2 separate regions of the Homo sapiens genome follow, and region 2 is linked to region 1. Evidence: fine-mapped expression QTL. A gene starts in region 1. The other region holds a variant in brackets. All regions are shown on one strand. Distances are from middle to middle. Region 1 holds the start of CTNNB1 (catenin beta 1). Region 2 has its middle 230 kb from the start of CTNNB1.

What was found.
Region 2: its variant is fine-mapped to the expression of CTNNB1 in visceral fat (GTEx, PIP above 0.99).

The regions. Positions count from the first base shown.
Region 1 is chr3:41,195,451-41,203,785 of GRCh38, reverse strand. It overlaps CTNNB1 (catenin beta 1), which reads right to left and starts at 4,281. Exons shown (of 15, transcript NM_001904.4): 1 at 4,116-4,281. RefSeq lists enhancers at 3,411-3,520, 4,231-4,290, 3,632-4,578, 7,593-8,335 and silencers at 3,871-3,990, 4,421-4,880.
Region 2 is chr3:40,967,018-40,975,352 of GRCh38, reverse strand. No RefSeq gene overlaps it. Among named protein-coding and RNA genes, the nearest start is that of CTNNB1, 230 kb to the left of the region's middle. RefSeq lists a silencer at 3,700-3,749 and enhancers at 3,042-4,241, 6,080-6,580. The variant C/T (reference allele first, on the strand shown) is at 3,407.

The DNA.
Region 1 (8,335 bases):
AACCATGAACATAGGAGCCTAGAGAAAGCTTTTTAAGGAAAAATTCAAAGGGCAAAACACAGTTCATCATGGCCCACCACTATGTACAAATGAGACCAACCCTATGGTCACTAAGGGCATTATATTTTAGGTCACATACACTGGCTCAATTACCTTTATTTCTATCTATTTCCTAATATAATCAAGTTGAGCACTTATGTTTTACTCTGTGAATGATTTTAGACAAATTGACAATTCACATTTTCATTAATTTTTTTCTGAGAATTTCAGTTGCTGTAATTCATCAATATAACTGAATATTATGATCTTTTACCTCCTAAAGTACTATACTGAGATTCTGGTTTATCATTATGATATATTTAAGCAGAACTGCCTACTCAAAGTGACCTTAAAAAACCTCCCGACTTTTCTACTGCAAATATTGGCTGAGAAGACATTTTCTCAAGCCTGTATTTTAATTAGCAGTAATGATATTAATTATTTTAGAAATCAAAGGTTTCTTAGTTGATTCTCCCTCATCAGAACTATTCCTAAATATATCCCACATAAACTTGTTTGGAATTAAAAAAAAAAAAATCACAAGCATTATACTATATCCACTGGAGGGCACTCAACATGACCCAAGCATGCAATGAAAACATGCTCCAACACTACTCACTCTGCTGCTTCAGGCTTGAGGGAAACTTGGAGAGTGGGGAATGTCTCTTAACAGAAGAGATGCCCATGAGTTAAAAAAAAAAAAAAAAAAAAGTGGCTAAACCCTAAAAATGGGTTCCTAATGTGATTGACTTTATCTTTCAAGAGCTTATTTTTCCTTAGGAAGGAAGCAAATTATATGCATACTTCAAGGACAGCAGGGTTCAGGCCTCAACAGATGAGCCTAGGTTTCAAACTGAGTCAAGCTCAGTCTTGCATGAAACACAAAAGCAGCATTCTTAAGTAAACAGAGGAAATAAAGAACTTTCCCCTGAGTTTAAGTGATGAAAAACTATAGGAGTTAACTCCTATACTCATTTAGATCAACACAAATCATATTATTTTCCTTTTGTGAAACCTGAGTATTTATTTTAACCGACTGGTCCACTTACCTATCACAATCACAACTGCAATATTACATAAATAGTCTGTTAGAGAAGGACAACTGAATCTGCAAATCAGTATCTTCTCAATGAGAGTACAAGGAGGCAATGGCTACATACGATGGACAAACCAGAAGCCGCTCCTGGGCTATGTTTACTATTTACTTTTATGGTATAAAAATGTTCTCAGTCAAGCAGTTTCAACAATAGATACCACAGTTCCAATAAAAAGAGGGCTACAAGAAAACTAAGTTAACACATATTTTCAAAAACAATGTCACAAATCAACATGACACACTACAAAAGAGTTGCAAATACCTTTTGTTAGAAGTTTGTCCAGTTCTAAAAGCCTTCATCCTTTGTGCCCCGGGTTGGCAGTCAAGCATGCTTCCGACTAAGCTCAAAGTACAAACTTAAAACTTACCACCTACTCATCTACAATTATTGATTATCAGAAGCTAGGAAACCACAAGAGAAATAAAAATAATCTTGTAACAGGACAGATGTATTATTTCATTTCAATAACACTGAAGTTTCATTTGGCTAAATATACTTCTATAGTCTATTGCAGGAGATTTAATTTCACTGCTACTTATAACTACAAAATAATTATATTCAAACTTTTAATTCTCTACATCCCTAGTTTCAACAATACTTAGCATGCGCCTCTCCCCACCTCACCCTATAACAAAAACGAGTATCTGCAATAGTTTTGCTAACACATTTCAAAATACCCTTGGAGAAACTTGCCTCCTCGTTTTCTATCTTGGTGGTGGTGTTATTAAAACAAGCATACAGACCCTCATTTATGCCAATTTTTATTCCAGTCATTAACAGGAACAGTAAGCTCAGTCTGATAAATTTTAATACTGGAAATACACTTTTCTATATCATGTTGGTAAAAGAAATAATCAGATAACAGTTTAAAAAACCCCTCTTCCATACTCTGAAACCTGAACACTGTTAAATGCTTCATTTTTTTTTAATTAGCCACCTTATTTTTTTTTAAGTTGGTTTTTCCTGAAAACTTTTAAATGACTGTTCTGGTCTGTGGGAGACTCAGGACTCCACAGGACTCTAAAGTTACATGCTATACTAAGCTTTCTAGCACAGGTTTTTTATTTTTCCCCACCCCCAGGACTTCAAACTTGAATAGTCTCAGCATTCCTTTAATCCTACAGAATAGACTTCTGAAAGTTTTTCAAGTTACTGTTGCAATAATCTCAGGGCCTTGTCCTTGTACACGGCCTTCAGAACAAAGGTTAGGTCAAAGTAATGAATATTGGGCGCAAATTAACCAAATTTTGTCTGGTGTGAAAGGACATCCTCAAACCTTTAAGGGTACTTTTTTTTTAATCAGAGATTTTTCAAAGATTTAAATATAAAAGTAAAATAAATTCCGCACAGCCTTAGTTCAAACGAAAAGCCTCCAAAGTAGAAATTTATGTCAATAATTTAAGCAGAGAATAAACCAGCAGTATAACATAAATAACACTTGAGACTATATTTACTATTTCTTAGGATGAATACAAGTCAACACGAAGACATCTGAAGGTATTGAATGTTCGTTCACCAAGTGACAAATACTGAAATGGCTTCCTAAATTCCAGACAAACTACAACTTAGCGATCTGAAAAACATTAGCCTAGACTTTATGAAAGGAAATGCTGCCGTCTCTTCAAGTTGATGTCTAGCCTAAGCCACCATTATTCATGATACAAAGCTCTCATTTCACTAAAACCACTCCTCGATTTCCTTTTGCCGACCTCTGCATACCAGCAGCCTAGTCTTTCTTCATTCACCACTCACAAACTCGAGGGGTGGGGGGAAGACCACAGATGTCTGGAAGATACAAAGTAGGAGACAACGCTCCCTCCAAAAGGGAAGAGAACGAAGGCAACAACTACATACACCCAACTGCCAAAGCTTTCAAGCTTGGCAGATTCAGAAGCAGGCTATAGGAACTTAACTTCGAAAAGTCTCGGTTCAAAGTCCTCTCTCCAGACAAAACACTGAAAGAAGTTGCAATGCTTGAATTCCATTTGGCCAGCTTTGGAGCGAAGGAAAAATTCACTCCGCTGAAAAGAAAACGTGCTCTATAATTCAATTTTAGCTGCCATCAAACTATTTGAATAAATTTAAATTATTTCTACGAACAAAATTCTCGAAGCGGTCTGAGTCAGAGGCTGAATCCTGCAGTTCACTTGGTAAGAAACAGTAAGCCATCACCTTCGCCTTCCTCCACCCCCTTATTTCACCAGGGTCTCATACCCACTACCATAAATCCATAAGACTCCCAGTACATTATCCACTGCTTTCACTCACCTGCATAGTACGCTAAAATACAGGTGCAAGACATGGATTTTTTATGTGCTCACCCTACTGACGCATCGCACCCGCTGCACTTAGAGTTTAGTTGCTCTAAGGTTTAAAGTTGCTTCGATTCAAACTCACATAGCCAGGGCATTAAAAAAAATAATAACACTTCTATTCTTAAGAATGAAAGAGGAAATCTTAAGAGAAAGTCCACTGGTCCGATCCCCAGGACTGATGGGACTTAGGGTGGCGTCTCTGCCTCAGCGCCCGAACCCCAACTCGCCGCAAGAGCTGAGAAGGCGGAGCCCCCCGTCCCCACCCCGCCCCCCACCCAGGGCCCGGCGCATCCCGAGGCACCGGGTCCCTCCCCCAAACTCGGCCAAGGCCAGAGCCCCGGACGGAAACCACAGACCCCCACCCCCACCCCCACCCCGCCTGCCATCCGGGCTCCTGTACGCGCCCCCGCGGCGCCCCCTCCCCGCAAGCGATGCCCCCAGGGCCCCAGAGAGGCAGCGCGACCGGAACCCGGGCCCGGCCGCCGCCCTCCGCGCCCCGGGCGCGGCCCACCCTCACCGTCCCCCACCTGAGCTCCCCGCTCCCAACCCCAGGCCTCCCGGCTGCGCCCAGCCCGCCGCCCGGACCGCGCGCCTGCTACGAAGTTTGGCTCCGAGAGGAAGCGGGAGCAGCCCCGGAAGGATAAGGAAAGGAGCGCCCAAGCACCTCAGGGGAACAGGCTCCTCCCGCCGCGGGAGTCCGACCGTCCTCGACCTGCGGTGGCGGCTCGGCGGGGACTGAAGCTGCTCCTCAGACCTTCCTCCGTCTCCGCCTCCCCTCGCTCTCCGCTCCCGGGGCCGGGCCAACGCTGCTGCCACAGACCGAGAGGCTTAAAATGGCGCCGCACAAGGAGCTCTTATAAGTCGCGCAGAAGCCGCTGTATCCTGCCGCCACCGGCGCAGCGCGGAGCGTTCCGCCGCGCGAGGACAAGGGGCGGGGCGCGAGGGGGCGGTGGAAAGTAGTCCCCGCGCCGCCCAGCAGTCTGCTGCCGTCTGAGCGCCCCGGGCCGGGGTGGGGTGCCTGGGCACCCCACGGACGCTCCCCGGGGTGACGGCTGGCGGCTGCCCGCTGCGCGGCCTGAGGGCAGCCCGTGAGGGCGCTGTGGTCTGCATCGGGGAGGCCGGGCCCCCGCGGCCTGGGTTGGGGAAGGTGGCCCTGGTATCCTCCCCTGTCCCAAGCCCGACGCCCCCGCCCCGCGCGTTTCCCGAACCGGGAGAGCAGCTGCAGGACTCGGCGCGCCTTTCCCGCGGCCTGCGGAAGGTGGCATCTCGGCCCCGGCCTTCGAGTACCGCTCGGGGCGGCCGGGACAGGTCCTGGGAGGGCGGAAGTTCGGGGCCAGGGCGGCGGCAGGGGCTCGGGTTCAGCGCCCGCCCGTCTTGGGGCGCTCCTGGCCCCGCAGCTGCCCCGTCGCTGGTCTGCGGGTTCCCGGCCGGGCGCGGGTTAGGGGGCCTCGCCGACCTTGTGGTCTGTGCCGCACACTCCCTGCTGGACCTGGGTCGCAGCCCAGTCTCACAGCACCCCCAAAGCCCCCCACTGTCCGGATGGTGGATCCCACCTCTCAGCAGGCTGTTCAGCTTGAATTTCGACCTGAATCACCGGGCCGAGCCGCCTTCTGTCCCCACTCACGAAGGCTGTGAACTCTCCGTAGAACGGGCGCCAAGCCCGCAATTCAACAAGTCCTTAGGAGTACCTACTGTGAACAAATAACTAATGGAAATGGATTAGCTCCAGAGCGCTGTCAATTAGGTTAATTCTTATAGATTCCATTTTTATCTGGTTCCACTTGTCACTAGGTATCAATAGATTTATTTGTGGGGATTTTTCTTTGGAGAAGAAGATTTTTACGGTATTACTTATTTGTGAAATCCAAGTATGTTTATAGAGAAAGCTATCGATTAAGCAGCCTCCAATTTTTTAACTAATTTTCTATTTAAAAACGTTTGTAATTCATTTCAATAGACTGAAAAATGTTTCCCATTCTAATGCAGCAAAATTGACGTTTGTCGAAGCTGCAACAAGTATGATCGATTCAGTTTCTCTAGGCTATTGTTTGTGCTTATTTTTCCTCCAAAACATTGGAGAGAGTACAAAAAGCAGCAGTGAAAGTTACCTCTGTGCTTTTATCCCAGGACTACAATTAATACAAGCAAACAATAGGTCTTAACACATAGATGCAGGCGGAAAACCCACTTATTCATTCACTCATGGAGGTAGGATATGTAGTTTAAGGCACAGCTCATGTTTCAGGGCCAGCGTATTCTTTAAATAACTTTTATTTTTGTCTTAAAGATATTTTACTATATAAGTGGTAATGCCAACTGCCGTCTGTCACCATAGCACATGTGGGCCACTGCAGTGGAAAAAGTCTACACACTAAGATGATGTTCAGTGAGATCCATTGTCTAGAAAGACCTTCTCATTTGTATCTTTCCTACTAATTCTGTAGAATCTAAGTGTAGCTATTGGTTGTGGTCACAATTCAAAAAGATTGAACCGAAAAAGGTATTTCATCAAAACCGTGTTTCTAATATAAACTCAAAAGTATAAATGGCGTTTTCAGGTACTGATTCCTAATTTTAATTGTCATTTGCAGAATTAAGGAATATGCAATTGATTAAAGTCATACATTGAAAATCAGACGACAGATTAACCACTTTTACAGGGCTTTTTTTAAAAAAACATGTTTGCTTTTTCTATGTGCAGGTTTTTTGTTTTTGAATAAGGCACTCTTGAAATTGGTTAAGAAATATCTGCACCATTAGAAGATCTAAAGGATAAAAACGTTTCTATATTTGTATTTCTCTGTTCCATTACCAAAATAATGGAATCATTTTTCTATAATTTAAATACTTTAAATTTAGAATTATGATTTTTAATCCCTACTGACACCGTAAACAAATACATTTTATTAAAGAAAATGTAAAATTTGCAACAATGCAGCATGCTGTTTTTCCCATCATATTAAGTGTACTGAAGAATTACTGGTTGACTAGCATTAAACCAAGTTAGTTAAATTTAACATTGCTCCTAATTTTTATTTGCATGTTTCATAAAGCAGAAATTGTTCTAGTTGTCTCACCAAAAATAAGAGATGAATAACTTCTGTGAAATGAAGACAAACACTATCATTAAATCAAAGAAAAATACATTATCAAGATACATGAGTTTGGTAAAATAAGTAATTTTGTTAAATAATTTTTTTGAATTGACCTTGGACAATACATTTCATAAAAACAGTTGGTTATCTGTTTTATGTCTTTTCCTTCTAGAGCCAGTCACCCCGGGTTTGACATAAATTAATTTTATAAAATGGCGACAGACAAGTGGTTCTAATTTTTAGGCTGTGTTCTTAGAAACAAAAGTGTCTCCAGCTAGTTTAAAAGAGAAGATATTTCTTTTCACGCTATCAGGCCACTGGCATATAAAGCAGTGGTAGACTGAACCTGAATGTAAGGCATCCCTTCGCTAAAACAGAGGCTTTTGATTACCTTTAAGAGAGGAAAAAAAAAAAAAAAAGCCAAGATTATTTCACACTTCAGACAGAAATATGAATCACAGAAATATGCCAGTATTGTAAAGAAGGTTCGTTCACTTTTAGGATACTTAACTCTATCAAATCCATTAATTAAACATTTATTGAGCATCTAAGACAATGAGCTTCCCTTAGAGAGAGGGAAACGGATGACTGGCTCCATTTGATTAAGTCTCTTAAATTAATGTAAAATTGTAACTGTTAATCCACCCTATTTAAAAAGAAGCAGAAACGGTAGAAAAAAAGCTGTGAAAGTAGGGTGTGGTCTCACTTGGACTCTACATCCGAATCCCCTCGGAAGGCTCCCTTCCCAGCAGAAAGGTAAGAATAATATTCCATGCATTTAAAAACAAACAATCCCAACTCTCCAAGAAGGCTTGTTAAAAATATTTCTTAGGACAATGTAAAAACACTGGACAACAATCAGGATCAGCTTTTCATTTAGCAGTTCATCAGGTGGGCTATTTATGGATTGGGACTTTTGATTTGTAATACATCATCTCAGGGTTCAGTGTTATCTTTTGATTTCTTTCCAGCTGAACAGGCTAAGTAGTTGTAAATACCTCTTGTCAGACTACATGGTTGGCTATTCTCGCACACAGAAGTAATCTAGGAACCCACTGGGCAAGTTCGGCGGAAAGCCACTGTGGAAAGCTTGCAGCTGATGTATACTGCAGAGCGAGGGAGGGGCGGTGAAGGTGGCGGGAGGCAATGGCCATGGTGGTTGCTATGGCCTGGTCACTTCAGTTATGTCAGGAACACCCTACATGCTTGGAGTTATGTGTACTCGAGGCCTTCATTGGTTTGCCAGACTAAGGAAGTACATTTTAATGGCTACCATACAAAGTATGAAGGAGAAGCAATGGAGTCATCGTCCATGATATTCAAAGAACATAAAGGTATATATGTTTCTCAATGTTTCTAAGAACTCAGACAAGTACCGCTGCATTTCTAAGAAATCATGTTTCGGAGACACACACCCGCAACACACGCACGTGCACACACACACACACCCCATTAAAAATTTCAAAATGGTTGCAGATATTTCATTCACAAGAAGGTTAAAGGCGTTTCCCATCGCAAGAAGGATTAACTTACCGGAGGATTCTGGGACTGCAGATGTATACTGCGGCAAAATCCTAAATTCATCGAAAAAATCATTTCTGGACTCCAGCTGCTAAAAATAATAGAATTATAGTAAATCATGGATAAGATTAAAACAAGCCATTTTCACCTTCCAAAGTATTCAGAAAAAAAAATGATTCTTTTCTTTTAAGTCATTTCTTAAACAATGCAAATTTTAAAGTAGCTTTTCTTTCCAGACCTCGCAGCGCCATGAAATCGATAATTTTTG
Region 2 (8,335 bases), 230 kb after region 1:
GGCTTCAGAGGGAGGGAGCTGCATCAAATCCTGATATTCCACAAAGAACCATATGAAGGTGCTTCAACAATCCTGATCTCAGTCCCCTTTCTGCAAAAATGAGAATAATAAAGACCCATCTTACAAGGTTGTTGTGGCAATAAGATAGGAAGATGCACACAAACACTTTGCACAATGCTTGGTTTATCTGTGGGGGCTCAATAGTTGTTGGATGAATCTTAAAGTACATTGAATAGCAGTGAACATTTGGAAAGTGGTGTGGTTTATTGGTTGAAGCCTTAGACTTACTGTACCAAACAGATATCCTGGCTCTGCCAGTTACTAATATCTGACCTAGAGAAGGTAACCTAATTCACCAAGCCTTGATTTTCTTCTTTGTAAAGTAGAACAAATACAAGTAACTGCATTATAGGGCTCCAAAGATTATCAAATAAGAAAATCTAGATAAAGGACTGTGCCCAACAAATTGTAGAAGCTCCATAAATGTAGTTATTATTATGTTATGATTATGTTTATTACATATGGGCTCATCTATTAAATTAATAAAGGAGGGAAGGAAGGAATGATGGGAAGGGCTGTGGCTCATGTTCAAGGGAGGGATTTTCTTGCTTCTCTTTGCGTACTCATCCTGATGTAGCATTAAACTGTGTGGACTGCTCAGAGCCAACAGTGGACTGAGAAAGATCAAGGGTTGCAGGGGTGGGGTGTGGTCTGGGCAGAAGCTCTCTTGAGAGAACAAGAAACAAATTAGTTTTCATTATTTTTATTTTATGTATTTATTTTAAATGTATTTATTTATTAACTCAATAACTATTATTGACCCCTTATTATATACGAGGCCCTGTGCTGGGCTCTCAGGATACAGGGATAAATAGAACAGACATGGTCTCACCCCTCATGAAGCTTGCAGTCTAGAGGGAGGGTCAGATATTAAAGAAGAAAACCAAATCAGCATATAATAGCAAATTATGATGTTTGCTATGAAATAAAACAGCTGGATTCAATGAGACAGGATAACAGGAAGGATCATCTTTTGATGGTGAGGAAAGGCCTCTGGGAAGGTCTGAGGAGATGGCACTTATGCTGAGACTGGATGGATAAGAAGGAAATAGCCCCACAAAAGGTAGGAGAGGAGGAATTCCAGGGAGAGGGTACAACAGTGTAGAGACCTTGAAGTCAGAAAGGGTTTGGTGTCACAGGGGAAGAAGGGGCTGGAATGTAAGTAGGGAAAAAGGAGTTTGAAGTGAGGCTGGTGACAGCTGGAGCTGGAGCCCGCAGGGATTTGCTGGCCCCATTAGAGTTTTGATTCTGTTCTGAAGCCATTGGAGGATTTAGACCCAAGGAAGGACAGTCTGCTTTGAGCTTTGGCAAGGCCATTCTGGCTTTCTTGTCAGAGCACAATAGAAGCCGGAAGGCTGGTAAGGATGTGATTTCAAGGATTCAGGTAGGAGGAGGTGGGGGCTGGGTCTAGGGAGATGGCCTTGGAGGTGAAAAGAGGTAAATGAATTTGGAAGCATAATAGGACACGGTGATGGACTAACTGTGGGAGTGAGAAGGAGAGAGAAACTCAGGGACAAATTCCAGATTCTCACCTGAGCAACTGGTGGATGCTCGGTGAGAGGAATGGGTTATAGGTTTCATTTTAAACAAATTAAGTTTGAGATAATATGATATATCCAAATGTGTGATATCATCTAGTGAGTCTAGAGCTAGGAAGTGAGGTCTGGGCTGAAAATATACCTTCGAGACTTGTCAGCATTTGCACGATATTTAAAACCACAGGCCAGCTCAGTGTGTAGGGCTCCAACTGACACCCTATTCTTATTCTCTTTTTTGTGCCAACTGGCCTAGAATTTTAATAGAGCCCTGGCTGCCCTGCTGACCCCAGCATGTTCATGCTGCGTCTACAGTGGCCTATGCCAAGGGGTGGTCCCTGGGGCACACCAGACCTCCTCTTCTTCTCTACAACAGTCTTGTGTTAGCAAGGCCAGTCCAACATGACTGGCACCAGAGCCTTACACTATAACACCTTTCTTCTTGGAAAGGCCCCAGGCACCAAGCGCTGTCTGTGAAGAAGACTGGAGAGCCAAGATGTAGAATTAGGCATGTGTGTGGGCTGAGGGCCCAGTGCAGCACATGGAACTTTGTAGGTGAAGTTTTCTGCTTTCCCTGGTTCTAGATCTTTGTATCTCAGGTCCTAGGCTCTTCCCAGTTCTGGAAGATCCCAGTGTCTTTCTCTGAGCTTCCTTTTCTTTTAGAATTGCATGTTCAAGGACCTTTAACAAATACTCAACTCCCTTAACATTTTTTTTTCTAATTTCATCTAAATGTTCACCTAAGCTGTTCATTCTCTGTCTTCTAGAAGTTAGTGAAACAGAATTATCAGAACCAGGCTCTCTTTTGGATGCAGTTGGTGTTTCTCCAAGGTGCTTATTACCTGTTACGGTTATTGCATGCTGGGACTGAGGTATAAACACTTCTGCTCAGGAGACCGAAGGCAGGTTAGGGGAGGCTGTAGGTACCTAGTTGGTAGAGTTTGCTGCAGAATCCTGGAAACAATATTTGGTCTAGGCTCAGACAGCTCTAGTTCAATGCCAAGATCTGCCTGGTATTAGCTGTATGGCATAGGACATGCCATTTATTGTTCCTTCAGTTTCTGCATCGTAAATAGTGATGATTTCAGGATTGTTGTTAGATTATGAGGAATATGGGAGAGTGCTTTGTACACTGTAAACACAATTACAAATGTAGTATGTTTTTCCTGTGCACACTCAGCAATTTGTATGATTAACTCTTTTGCATCTCTGCTTCTCCCTGTTGCTCTAGTTTGTTCACATCCAGGGGGCTAGATCAGACAAGCCTACACAGCTAGTAGCAGGTACGAGGAGGCATCGGATTGTGGCAGCTTCTTCTCTCCAAAGATGCCTCATGTCATTGTGCTTTCAAGGAAAAACAGCAAAGTATTTTTTTCGTTTTTTTTTAATTGGTATGTTGATATCTACTGGCGTACATTTTGTGTAACAATAGGCAAATATTAGGATTGTTAAGATGTTAGAGTAGGGAGAAGGATGCAGGGAATAGAGGACAGAGATAAATTTTACAGTTTGTGAAGATATGCGTGTTCACATCTTGTTTTGTTTTTCCTTTACCCAAACAAATAAATAAGAAAAACTGCCCACTTTGCTCTCTTATCTACCCTTCCTGTGTTCTCATTGGGGCAGAGCTCTGCTGGGGAAGGAAGCGGCCACAACCCCAGGCATTTACTACCTGTTCTCCCCACCTGCTATTTGAGAGAAGTTTTCAAGCTGAAGTTCGTACAGCTGCATTCACTTGGACATGAATATCTGGGAGTTCACGGGTTTGTCTGCCCCTTTGGCCTGAGAGAGCTGGGCGGAAGCCTCCTTGA[C/T]GTCTGTGTTGACTCTCTGTTTCTCTGGTTTTTCTCTGGCCCAGTTTCCTGTTCACCTCTGTCCTCTGCTGTCTGGTAGGCTTGACTCATAGGAAACCACAGCCAAGTCACCTAGTGGTCTGAGTCACTGACCTTTGGAGCATCTCTTTCTTAAAAAACAATAAAGACAAAAGTAAGTGCCTAAGTAAGTACTGCATTTTGCAATAGATTTCAGCTAAGTATTGCACTGAACGGTTAGTTCTGGGAAGTCCCCACTTGTGACTTATTTTTGGCAACTGTGCTATAAGCAAATCATTTTATCTCCTAGCAACCGACTTCCCTCTTCCCTCCCTCCCTCCCTCCTTTGTATCCACAAGTGTTTGCTGAGAACCCTTTGTGTCCAGGCACTACATTAGGTTCTGAGCACAAAATGAAGACATAGAATGGTCCTCAACAAGCTGCTGATGCCCATAAGAAAGAGGCCTGCAAACATGTGTAAACAAGTGTGACAAGTTCACCGGCAAGGGGCAGCACAGGGTGGCACTGAACTCAGCCTCGGTATTGCCCTGACCACATGGCTGCATGTGAGCATGCCAGGTGAGGTGAGCAGGAGAGATGTTCTAGGCAGCGTTGGATGATTCTCTGTCACATTCCTTTGTGGTCAACTGAATTGCTCTCTTCAACTGCAGCTTTCACTGAGGCCACTTGAGGTTGCACAACTCCTTCCAGACACAGGTGAGCTCCACAGAGGGAGGATATGGACAAGGGGCTAGATTGGAAGGAAGATGGAGGAGAGTGATCCTTACAGCCCTGACATCGGTCAAGGGAGGCTAATAGCAGTGACCTTCCCCATCAATGTCATGTGGACTGGACAGCAATGACCAGGTGATCCATTGGTGGGGAAGTGTCCCCACAGGGACAATGGGGAACAGTCTATTCAGAAGGGACAATATGCTCGTAGCTGATGCTTTTGGCACCCTGTAACAAATCCCCTCAGCACACCTATGATTTTGTCACAGATCTGGTAGAGAGTGCAATGTGGGTTCCCATGACAATGCCCTCTTGAAACATGAAAAATGCTTCCCTGTTTTTTTGCCTCAAAGCCATCTCTGAAACTGGGAGCCCAGTCAGCCCCCAAGCAAGTACAACCTGCAAGTATGGAGAGGTAACGCCCTAGGAGCCATCTCTAACCAGTGAAGAATGAGAGCCAGTAAGCAAGTCTAGCCACTCCTCTTTTGGAGGGAACATTCTAGAAGGCATTCTGCACACTTGCCAAAGGTCACAGAAGAATTGAGCCCCTGTTGCCCAAAGCAGCAACCTTAATGATGCACACTCAGTGGCTTTTCATTCTTCCCTGTCTCACTCTCTCCCTTTTCTTTCACCTCTGCTTTTTGGGATCTCCTCCCAAATAAACCACCTGCACCAAGTCCTTGTGTCTAGTCTCAGGCTGTGATTTTAAGGGAGCCCAAACTAAGAGAGCAATATTATTAAAATTAAAGTTTTGAAATGAAAAGCATTTGAAGGTCCACTAGCAGTCTCCTTAAAATACCACCTACTACCTTTTGGTATTACCATTTATACCTGAGCCAGAGGAAAGGAGAATTCCAAAAAAGGCCTTAAAAACCCTCTGACCCACAGGAAATAGCTGCCATCTAGTCAGGCTGGGCAAAGGGCTTAGTAATACAGAAAGTGAAAAGGGGCTCATGGGGGCCTTAGCAGGGTGACTCAATTTAGTGGGTGAGAAGGAATTCTTGTTTAACTTAGGGGAAAACTACTGGGTAATATTCTTTTCCCTAGTCATAATGGTTACATTAAAAAAAAAAAAAACCCACATCGCTAGAAGGGCTAATGGTTAAGAAAAGATTGGGACAATGAGGCTCTATATGAACTAAAACGCTTATATTGTTACATTCATAAAAGCATGTTGAATTAAGAAAATAACAGGAATTTTATAGTTTGAAAATGAAAATAAAAGTTAATAGACACAAGGCTTCAAGATGGCTGACTAGAGGCATCTGGTACTTGCTTCCTCTGCAAAGAACTGAAACAGTGAGTGGATAATCACACTTAGAATAGATCATCTAAGAGGGAACACTGGAATGCAACAGGAAAGCGATAGGAAACACCTAAAGCAAGGAAGGAGAGGAAAGCAAGGCAGCCTGATTGGCTAGGAGTATGGAGAGGCTCTCCAATGCAGGAAAAGGGTAAGTCAGAGACCCCCAGTGGTCTGCATTCCCAACACAGACTCCTGCAATCCTAGCCACGAAAGAACCTCTTGACCACCAAGGCTGAAGTGCAAGCTGCTGCACATTTTCATGAGCCCTGAGGATAGACACTCCCACCTGCCACTGCCGCTTGGGGCTGAAATACATGCTCCCCAGCCACCTGCCTACTGCTTCTGCCACTCAAAGCAACCCTTCCCTCCCTAGGAGGGCTGCAGTGAAGCTGCTGCCACCTGCACTCATGTAAGCATTCCTCCAGAGCCTGAAAATCACCCAACCCCTGCCTACCACAGCCAGCACCTGCATGTGCAACCAGGTCCTCCTGGCCCAGCTTCACCCTCTCCAATGCCCAAGCATGCTTCCCGGGGGCCTGAGGATTACCTAACCCCATCCACCATCATTGATACCTAAGCACTCCTCCAGAGGGCTTGAGGTTGAGCCCACCCAATGTGTCACTACCACTACAGCTGGCACCTACCCACACATGCCACATATGGGCCTGGGGACTGGCCCACCCATCCTGTTGCAGCCACCCGCAATACCAGTGCAGGCTGCTCAGGAGCCAGACAGTTGTTCCACCACTGATACTGCCATTGCCCATGTCATGCTTGCTGTTCAGGGTCTGAAGCCTACTCACCCATCCACCAGGTCCATGATGGCAACTACTAGCACCTGAGCAAGTCCTCAAGGGGCCCAAGAATTGACCCACCTGAACCTGTGAACACTGATGCCAGTGTATGCTGCCCTAGGGCCCAAGGACAGGAATGCTCAGTTTGCCACTGCCATTGCTGAAGCCCATGGACTGATTTACCTGGTGTTTCCATCCTCAGCAAAACTTCACCACAGCCTCCATTAACAACTGCACCCTAAGCCACAAATACCACTGAATGCTGTTTATAGCCAAATAAACCATATGAAGACCACACTATTGCAGGCACTCAGAATCAAAGCCAAAGTGCCCTACCCAGCTAATACCATAGACACACGTTCAGAAAAAAGTCCTCCCCTACAAAAGGAAATACAAAAAGTTGGTAGAAGTAACTATTACACCAGATGCACAGATAATGTAAAGAACACAAGAGACAGAAAAAAGCAAGGAAATATGACACCTCCAAATGAACACAAAAATTCTCCAGCAGTAGATTTCAATGAAAAAAATTTATGAAATTCTGGAAAAAGAATTCAAAATAATATGATTAAAGAAACAGTGAGGTATAAGAAAACACAGATAAATAATATAAGAAATCAGGAATGTGATTCAGATTCTGAATGAGAAATATACCAAAACAGATAGCTACCATCAAAAAGAACAAAATTTTAGAACTGAAAAACTTTGCATTGAATAAAATGCGAAATACATTTGAAAATTTCAAGAATAGATCAGATTGAACAGGAAAAAAAAAGTCAGAATTAAAGACAGGACTTTTGAAATAACCCAGTCAAACAACAATAAAGAAAAAAGAATGAACAAAGCCTACGTAACATACAGAATACCATAAAGCAATCAAAAAAATTTCTGGTTTAGAATTTCTTAGAATTTCATATTGCCTTGCTTTTTCATGTTTCTTGTGTTCCTACATTTTTGTCTGTGCGTCTTGTGTAACAGTTACTTCTTCCAATTCTTTGAATTTGCTTTTGTAGAGGAGAACTTTTTTCTGAAGATACATATGATGTTGATTGGGTAGGGCTCTTTGGCTTTGATTCTGGGTGCATGCAGTAGTATAATCTTCATATGATTTCTTTGGCTATAAACAGAAGGCAAAGAGGAAATGAAAGGGATGGAAGACCTATTTGACAAAATAATAACTGAAAACTTCCCAAGTCTAGCAAGAGATTTAGATATTGAGATACAGGAAACTCAGAGATCCTCAAATAGATACAATTTAAAAAGATCTTCATGGCACATTATAGTCAAACTGTCAAAGGTCAAAGACAGAGTATTCTTAAAACAGCAAGAGGAAAGCATCTAGTCACTTATAGAGGAACTTGCTTCAGACAAACAGTAGATTCTCAGCAGAAACCTTATAGGACAGGAAATAATAAAATGATATATTCAAGTGCCAAAACAAAATAAACCTGCCAGTCAAAGATACTATACCTAGGAAACTTATTCTTCATAAATGAGGGAGAAATAAAGTCTTTCCTAACAAGCAAAAGCTGAGGGAACTTATCATCACTAGACAAGCCCCAAAAGAAATGCTTAAGGGAGTCCTACAGCTGGAAGTCAAAGGATAATATCTACCATCAGAAAAATAATGAAAGTATAAAACCCACTAGTAGAAGAAACTCACAAATAAAGAAGGGAAAGAATTCAATTGTTACCACTATAGAAAACCACAAAATCACAAGGATAAACAATAAGTAAAAAGAAAAGAATAAAAGACATATAAAGCAATCAGAAATCAATTAATAAAATGATAGGAATAAGCCATCACATATCAAAAATAGCCTTGAATATAAATAGATGATACAGTTAAAAGATATACACTGACTGAATGGATTAAAAAATGACCCAACTATATGCTGCCTATAAGAAACTCACCTCACATGTAAAGACACATAAAGTCTGAAAGTAAAGGAATGGAACAAAGATATTCCAAGCAAATGGAAACCAAAAGTAAGCAGGAATAGCTATTCTTACATCAGACAACAGACTTTAGGTCAAAAACAATGAAAAGAAACAAAGAAATCTATTATATAATAATAAAGGGATCAATTTAGCAAGAGA